2 separate regions of the Homo sapiens genome follow, and region 1 is linked to region 2. Evidence: fine-mapped expression QTL. A gene starts in region 2. The other region holds a variant in brackets. All regions are shown on one strand. Distances are from middle to middle. Region 1 has its middle 37 kb from the start of EXTL3-AS1. Region 2 holds the start of EXTL3 (exostosin like glycosyltransferase 3).

Region 1 (4,385 bases), 37 kb after region 2:
TAATCCCAGCGCTCTGAGAGGCCGAGGCAGGCAGATCACCTGAGGTCAGGAGTTCGAGACCAGCCTGGCCAACATGGTGAAACCCCATCTCTACTAATAATACAAAATTAGCTGGGTGTGGTGGCATGTGCCTGTAATCCCAGCTACTGGGGAGGCTGAGGCACAAGAATCACTTGAACCCAGGAGGCGGGGGTTGTAGTGAGCCAAGATCACGCCACTGCACTCCAGCCTGGGCGACAGAGTGAAACTCTGTCTCAAATAAAAAAAAAGAAAGAAAAGAAAAGAGTGGCTGGGCGTAAGCACGCCTATAGTCCCAGCACTTTGGGAGGCCAAGGTGGGAGGATTGCTTAAGTCCAGGAGTTTGAGACCAGCCTGGGCAACATAGTGAGACTCCATCAAAAAAAATTAGCCAGGCTTGGTGGTACACGCCCATGGTCCCAGCTATTCAGGAGGCTGAGGCAGGAGGATCACTTGAGCCCAGTTGTTTGAGAATGTAGGAAGCCATGATCATGCCACTGCAGTCCAGCCTGGGTGACAGAGTGAGACATTGTCTAAAAACAAAAAGAAAGAAGGAAGGAAGGAAAAGAAAAGAAAAGAAAAGAGACAGCAAGAAAGCAAGAAAGAACCTTCCGGAGTTTAAACTGATGCACTGAGTACCTAAGATCTCTCTCATCTCCCATTCAAGGACCCATTGAAATGATGAAAAAGGCATTTTGAAAAAGAGTGAAATAATAAGAGGCGCAAAAAGAAAGGCTGCCATCAGCAGGCAAGAAATCTTAAAAACTCCTGGAGGGCAGAAAGCATTAGGATGAGATTGACAAAGAAGCAGACAAGAAAACCACAGATTCAAACGCCACCAGGAAGGCCAGATCTTGAAAAGAAGTCCATGGAAGCTTCTAACTGGATGACGCCAGACAGAAGGCACAGAAGTGCACCATGGCAATCATTAGGATAATTCATTAAAGCTGGGAGAGTTGGGACTGCCAGTGTCTTAAACACATTCAGCTTTTGCCCTCCAGCTAAACATAGAAAACCTATCCAGAAAAGAATAAAAAAGCGTACTTGGTAATTAAGGTATGATTACAGGGCATAAGAAAAAAAATCAGATGGCAGGACTGCCTTCCTTAGAATGTACACAAGTAGGACAGGCACAGTGGCTCATGCCTGTAATCCCAGCACTTTGGGAGGTTGAGATGGACGGATTGCCCGAGCCCAGGAGTTTGAGCCATGGGCAACATGGTGAGACCGCATCTCTACAAGAAATACAAAAATTAGCTTGGTGTGGTGCCATGTGCCTGTAGTCCCAACTACTTGGGAGGCTGAGGTGGGAGGATCACTTGAGCCCAGGAGATTGAGGCTGTAGTGAGCCATGACCACACTCCAGCCAGGGTGACAGAGCAAGACCCTGTCTCAAAAAAAAAAAAAAAAAAAAAGTAAACAAGTGACGACTGAGCTTGAGATATGAAAGTAAAGGTGGCCAGACGTGGTGGCTCACGCCTATAACCCCAGGACTTTGGGACGCCTAGGTGGGTGGATCACCTGAGGTCAGGAGTTTGAGACCAGCCTGGCTAACATGGCAAAACCCCGTCTCTACTAAAAATACAAAAATGAGTCAGGCATGGTGGTGGCAGGCAACTGTAATCTCAGCTACTCGGGAGGCTGAGGCATGAGAATCACTCTAACCTGGGAGGTGGAGCCTGCAGTGAACTGATGTCACACCATCGCACCCCAGTCTGGGCGATAGAGTGAGATACCCTCTCAAAAAAAAAAAAAAAAAAAAAAAAAAGTAAAGGAAAACTTTCAGAATAAAAAGGAAACAGACAAAAATAGGTAAATGTGAGAGAAAAGGCTCAAGGGTGATAGAGTCAGGTAGTCCAATATTCCTTTCATAGGAATTCCAAAGGAGACAAAGAAGGAAGGGGAGGAAATCATCAAAGATATGAGAGAAAAAGACCCTGAGCTGAAGAGGAACTCATCTTCAGATTACAATGTCCACTGACTGCTGTACAGAGTGAATTAAAAAAGACCTAATGGTGTTGCATTCTTGTGAAATTTCAGAACGCTGGGCAATTTTGAAAGCTTCCGGGGGGAGATGTATATAAAAAGGAAAGGAAAGGGAATTAAACTGCCATCAAATTTCATCAACAATACTGGTTGCTGGAAGACAATGGAACAATATCTTCAAATGCCTGGGGAAAGGAATATCTTGAACTCTGGATTCTATAAAGAATCATCCGACACAGTTCAAGAATCAATATGAAAAAAAATATTGAGACCTGTCAAAACTCACATTGTTTACCACCACTCATTCCACGTGAAAAAAGTACTTTAGGTGTTTGCTTACTCAAAATGAAAAAAGACCCCAGAGGCCGGATGCAGTGGCTCACGTCTGTGAGCCATGATCACGTCACTTCACTCCAGCCTGGGTGACACAGCAAGACCCTGTCTCAAACAAACAAACAAACAAACAAACAAAGATGGAAAGAAAGATTCTGTCTCTGCCCA[T/C]GCACTCACCAAGGGAAGGCCACATGGGCACACAATGACAGGCAGCCACCTGCAAGCCAGGGAGAGGGTCCCTACCAGAATGTGACCATGCTGGCACCCTGATCCCAGACTTCCATCCTCCAGAATGGTGAGAAAATAAATGCCGGCTGTTGAAGCCACCCAGCCTGCTGTGGTATTTTGTTAGGGCAGCCCAAGCAGACCATGACAGCCCGCCAAATCCGGGTCTTTCTCTCTGCTCATTCTGTAACCCACTGCCTGTCAACTGTGTCTTCACCAATAGTCATTCCGTCACTGGTGAAGAAGGTGTCACCTGGTCAGGGCCCACGTGTATTTTCAAAAGATAAAGAGACAGCAATGTTTTCTCACTTATTTTCTTCCTCTTTTCCCAGGAGTCTATTCACTTCGTAACGCCTGTCTAACTGAGCAGCCAAATTTAGCCTGCCGCCAGCAATGGCAGCCTCCTCAGCCCTGCCCCAGAGAGGAAAACTGAGAGACACCAGCCTCTGCCTGAAACTGTCTTGCTGAGGGGAGGTTTGAGAACGCTGTCTTGTAAAGTGGAAGAGATTAGGGGTTTCAAAGAATAGTGGTCTTCAGGCCAGGCACAGTGGCTCACACCTGTAATTCCAGCACTTTGGGAGGCTGAGGTGGGCGGATCACTTGAGGTCAGGAGTTCGAGACCAGCCTGGCCAACATGGTGAAACCTCGTCTCTACTAAAAATTTAAAATTTAGCTGGGTGTGGTGGTGTGCACCTGTAATTCTAGCTACTCAGGAGGCTGAGACAGGAGAATTGCTTGAACCCAGGAGGTGGAGGTTGCGGTGAGCCAAGATCACGCCACTGTACTCTAGCGTGGCGACACAGCGAGACACCATCACAAATAAAAATAAAAGAATAATGGTCTTCAAATGGAGGTATAAGAACACTTCCTCTTCAGTACAAGGGCACCAACAGTTTGAAAGGAATTGATTTCCAGGCCCGCTTTTCTGCAACTGATCTGCCTGAGCCCTTGCCTGCGAGGGAGGGGCAGGGTCTTACTTTCCCCAGTAGCCCTTTTCTACTTTATAAAAAGAAGAGGACACCCCTTACCCATCCTAATCTTACCATGGCATGTTTCCTGGGGCACCAAACCCAATCCTGGTATTAGTGCTGAACCAACATATAACCACAAGGACTGAGTAAAATTTGCTTTTGCAAAGTCAGGGGCTTTCCAACATTTTTCCTTTCCCTCAAGCCTAAGGAGATCTCATTGAATTGCATGTGGATAGAGCATTAAAAATTATTTTTGACGATAAATCAGCATAGGGTTTTTGGCTCAGAATGAGCTCAAAGAATTAACTGATAGTACGGTAATACAATTATTTCCATTTCTATCTACTTTTTAATTTTTTGGAGACAGGGTTTCACTCTGTCTTCCAGGCTAGAGTGCAGTGGCACAATCGTGGTTCACTGCAGCCTCAAACAACTGGGCAATGGTGCAATCGCAGCTCAGCTCACTGCAGCCTGGACCTCCTGGGTTCAAGGAGCTCCCACCTCAGCCTCCCCAGTAGCTGGGACCACAGGCACGTGCCACCACGCCTGGCTAATTTTTGTATTTTTTAGAGACAGGATTTCACCATGTTGCCCAGGCTGGTCTCGAACCCCTGGACTCTAATTATCCACCCGCCTTGGCCTCCCAAAGTGCTGGGATTACAGACGTGAACCACCAAGCCTGGCTCTACTTTTTATACAAACAGGTTTCCTCTGCAGTGTCATGGAGAAACAGAATTGATTCTAGCAGTGAGTAGGAACCAAACCTAGACACATAAACTAACTGGAGAAAAAGGCCAACTGTCCCATTAAGGAAGATATTTCTAACTTAAATCTAACTCCCTATTTAATAGG
Region 2 (4,385 bases):
TTCGAAATGATAGTTGCCGAAATGAAGGGGTAACAAAAATAAAATAGAAATATGTTAATAGAAGTTTTCTGAGCTAAACTTAATAACCAGCGAATGGAGTAGGCAGTTTTAGGACGTTATGAAACGTCCTGGTTTCATATTCCTCGCCTCACTCTAGAGTAACATACAAAGGCGCTCGAACCTTTACCAAGAGTAGGTCTGATGGGACTTCATTTTTCTCCTAACACCTGAGTCTACATCAGGGAATCCCTCCCACCCTCCTCCAGAAGACCACCAGTCTCAACTGAGACAAGGACTCCGCATCACTCCTGCAGCCCCTCATCACCCATAACCCTCCAATCCACAGCTGGCCTAGGGCCCTGCGGAAAAGAACAGGTCTCTCTCTAGTCTTCTGCTGGCTTCAAACCACCCTCTGGACTTGCCCTCTCTCCTAGAAATACATTTCCCATGCTCGGCCTGGCCCGACTTACTTCTCTCCAAACTGTTCCCTTAAAATCTTTTTACTCCGAGGTCAAAACTCTTGAGGCCTAATCACTGAAAGATCCCAACTACACACCAAGTATTAACAGGGTTTTCCCCCACTAGAAAAGCGAGAAGTGGAGGGATACAGACATACGCCTGTCAATCATTTTTTAGGTAGGTATGCCCCTCACATCTCTGGACATTAAGCACGTTTCCGGAAGTCTGAAGAGCCACAATTCTGACTCTTCCAGAAAGCACTTAGGCTCGATTCTCTCTTGCTCGTGAGTTCTTATGATTCCTCCGGCTCCCCACAAGCAAACGAATGGGAAATTCCCACAGGATAAGGTATTTTTAACACATCAAATAACAGTTTAAGAAAACGGTTTTTCTTTCATCACAAAATATTTCAAAGTCCCTCTGCTAAATAGCAAGTCGCTGAGAAGGCTTCGCTTCGCTCCAGACTCTGTGCCCCGCAGTTACTATCCCAGCACACAGGTCACAGCGATAGTCACTGTATCAGAATGCAGGACTCACTGCCGAACAAAATACAGAAAACTGCAGAGTCTGCATGGCTGCAACACACAAAGCCTTTAAAAACAAAAGAAAGCACGGGGAGCTCTGCCAGTAAAAATGAAGCTACCTAAATTGGACAAAGAATAGGACAAAGTGACAAGAAATGCTAAAGACGACTCTTAAGTAAATCACATATGGGGGAAATAATGGACATGTTGTGGTGTTCTGCGCTTCCTCCTCCACCAAAGGAGTCGAACCAAGAGGACTTGATGAAGCTTTTAGAGTTTTTAAAAAGGGAAGAAAAATCCAGGTTGCGGGGAAGGGCGGGGGTGGGGTGGTGCGGGTGGCGGGGGAGGGGCAAAATCCACAAAATTTAAGTCTTCTGAGAGCCAAACAGATTTTATTAATAAAAGGAGCCGAAGCTCTCGCTCAATGTGGGGAAGAGAAAGCAGCACCCATCAGCAGCCGGGCAGCCCTGGCTCGCCTCCGAGGGGCTCGGAATAGGTGCTGTCCCCGTCGCTGGGCTCGGAGCTCCGCCGCGCACACACGCCCCGCGCACCCCTGTCCGGTCCAGCCCGTGCAGCGCGAGGCCGGCTCTAGGGGAGCTGGGCCTGGGAGCCAGGGTCCTGCAGCACCTGGACCCTCGGACAGGAAGCGGCTCCTCTGACTGTGGCTCCTGAAAGGAGGCGAGCCCGGCAAAAAGAGCCAGCGGGGAGGGCAGCAGGCGACTGCGTGTAGAAGCGGGGGGCAGATGTGGGAAGGTGTGCTCGGGAAGGGGTGGGGGTAGTCCGGAGCTGCGCCTCCGCCGACAGAAGATGCTCCGGGCCAGCAGCCAGAGAAACGCCGCGGGTCACAGAGGGTGGAGGGCTTCAGGGAGCAGAGGAAGCCCAACAGCTGCAGCCGAGCGTCCAAAAAAAGGTGGAGGCGGGTCCCGAGCAGCCCAAACTGGGACGAGAGAGGGCGTGTGGGGGCGGGGAGGGGGTGCCCCAGCCCAGGGACCCGTTAGCCCTCCCGGCTGCCGGCCGAGGGCCTGGCGGCCTCTCCCCGGGCCCCCGAGCCACCGGGCAGGCCTACTCCGCTCGGAGGCTGCATGCCTCCCGCCGCCGGGCAGCAGCAGCCTCCCCGGGGCACGGCGGACCCGGTCCCTCCCGCCGCGTCCCCAGCGCTCGGGGCCAGCCCCGGCACCCTCCCATGAGCCCTTCCGGGCGCGGCCCCCGCTCCTCGGGCTCACGCGCGGCCAGCAGTCCTACCGGCTTCCAGCTCAGGGACCCGCCGCCGCCGCCGCCGCCGCCTGCGCGAAAGTCGGCGTCCCAGAAGCCGTTCTGGCTGCCGGCCGCCCGCCTTCCAGGCCGCGCCTGATCCGCCGCTCCCCCTGCCGGCCGGCAGCCATTTCCGACAGGCGACTGCGGAACTTGCCGAAGGGCGCCGCGCCGGAAATGGCCGAAGCCGGCGTTCGCGAGCGGGGGCGCGGACGCGGGCGCGCGCTCGCCACTTTCCCGACCGCGTCCGAAGACCGCCGAGGCCTCCCGCAGCTCCGCGGTGACACCCGGGTCAGGGGCGCGGGGCCGGGCGCCGGGGATTGTGGGAGGCGCGGGGGGGCGCGCCGGCCGCCTTCGGAGCCCCCCAACTCGCGTCCTGCAAAGGCCGCCGGGCCCTGTCGAGAAGACCCGACCGCAGATGGCGGGGAGGATGCTCCCGGCGGCGTGGGAACCGGGTCTGACTCCCGAGCCACCGCCGCTTCCGCAGGGGCGCCGGCCCCGGGAAAGTCAAGTCATAAATCCCTGAATCTAAAACTCCATTCTCAGAGAAAAGGCCTCCAAGGACGGGCGCCGTGCGCGGCAACTGCCTGCAGTTTTGAAGCCCTTTGACTATTTCATAACAAAGACAAGGCCGGGCGGCTTGGACGCTTAGGAAAATCCTGGGGCTTTGCAAAAACAACAGGTTAATCTAGTCGTGTGGGATGATCACCAAAACAAGACAGGAAAGAAGAACACCGTGTCAATGCTGAAAAGCCAGCCCCTGTGAGCCCCAAAGTGCACGTTTTCCACAGTCCCAAGGAACACGTGACTGTGTGTTTCCACACTTGAGAAGTCAGGATAAGACCCCTTGGATAATGGAACAGGGGATGGGGGTGGGAGCAAGCACCCTACCTGGTCACCTGCTTAACTTAGAAACCAGCTTTTAAAACCTGTAACTGCAGTATGAGCTACGATCAAATTTGTCTTAACGTATTTTTTTTAATGTTTTTAATACCCAGAACACAGGGCTTCTACTCCAGGGTTTCCTCGCCAGGGAACCCCAAACACACAGGACCTGGAGAAGCCGGGTAGAGCTGGCTCCTGGCCCTGCGCTTGGGTGGTCGGCTGCCTTAAGAAGAACTGCACCCCAGAGACAGGCTCGCAGCTGCCGACCTTATCCACTCGCCCTTTCTGCTGGAGCCCAGGCCCAGTGCTCCAGCAAGGAGGCTGAGAAAATGCTGAAGACTGATGCCCACGGGGGACAGCTTGGGCTAAGGATAACGTTTGCAAAACAAACCTTTAAAAACCCATAGCAACCTGTTTCCTAGAGCACACTCTTCATCTCTCCACCCCCAAACTAGTCCCGACTCGGATCCTCCTTTTCCTATCCTCTTTCTCTTGCTCTCCCGTCTCCTATTCACTTTTCTTCTCCTTTCCTCTTGATTATTATAAACAAATGCTTTCCAAGTCTTACCGCCATCATATGTGTACATATGCAACCCTTACTGTTACCAATTTGTTGAAGTCAAGACAGGAGGAGGCAAAGTTTAAAAATCAGAAGTATTGCAGGAAATGAAAATGGAGTGAGTGTTGCCTGGGTATCATAATTTTTTTTTTTTTTTTAACAGTTCCTCTACTTGGCTCTCCTCCAAAGGTACGCGGCCACAGCAGGCAGGGGCTTGGCAGTGTGGGAGGAGACACCACAGAAGACAGGGAAGAACTACCAGGCCTTGGTTCATCTCCACACTGGCGAGAGAGGACGTGCAGTTACCTGCTACCTGTTCGACTCAGTCTTTTACGTTGGAGTAACTTAACACATTGCTGCCCTTAACTTTGACTTACTTGCTTTTAAAGATGATGAAGCTGGCCAGGCGCCGTGACTCATACCTATAATCCCAGCATTTTGGGAGGCCCAGGCAGGTGGATCACGAGGTCAGCAGTTCAAGACCAGCCTGGCCAACATGGTGAAACCCTGTCTCTACCAAAAATACAAAAATTAGCTGGGCGTGGTGGCGCGTGCCTATAATCCCAGCTACTCAGGAGGCTGAGGCAGGAGAATCACTTGAACCCGGGAGGCAGAGGTTGCAGGGAGCCGAGATCGCACCACTGCACTCCAGCCTGGGCAATAGAGCAAGTCTCCATCTAGGGAACAACAACAACAAAAAGATTATG

What was found.
Region 1: its variant is fine-mapped to the expression of EXTL3 in whole blood (TOPMed, PIP 0.98).

Annotation. Positions count from the first base shown.
Region 1 is chr8:28,662,465-28,666,849 of GRCh38, reverse strand. It overlaps a transcript of EXTL3 not described here. Among named protein-coding and RNA genes, the nearest start is that of EXTL3-AS1, 37 kb to the left of the region's middle. The variant T/C (reference allele first, on the strand shown) is at 2,506.
Region 2 is chr8:28,699,500-28,703,884 of GRCh38, reverse strand. EXTL3 (exostosin like glycosyltransferase 3) reads right to left here and starts at 2,384. Exons shown (of 7, transcript NM_001440.4): 1 at 2,226-2,384. It overlaps EXTL3-AS1 (EXTL3 antisense RNA 1), which reads left to right and starts at 2,421. Exons shown (of 3, transcript NR_126027.1): 1 at 2,421-2,525; 2 at 3,842-4,385. RefSeq lists silencers at 1,816-2,225, 2,326-2,395, 2,466-2,645.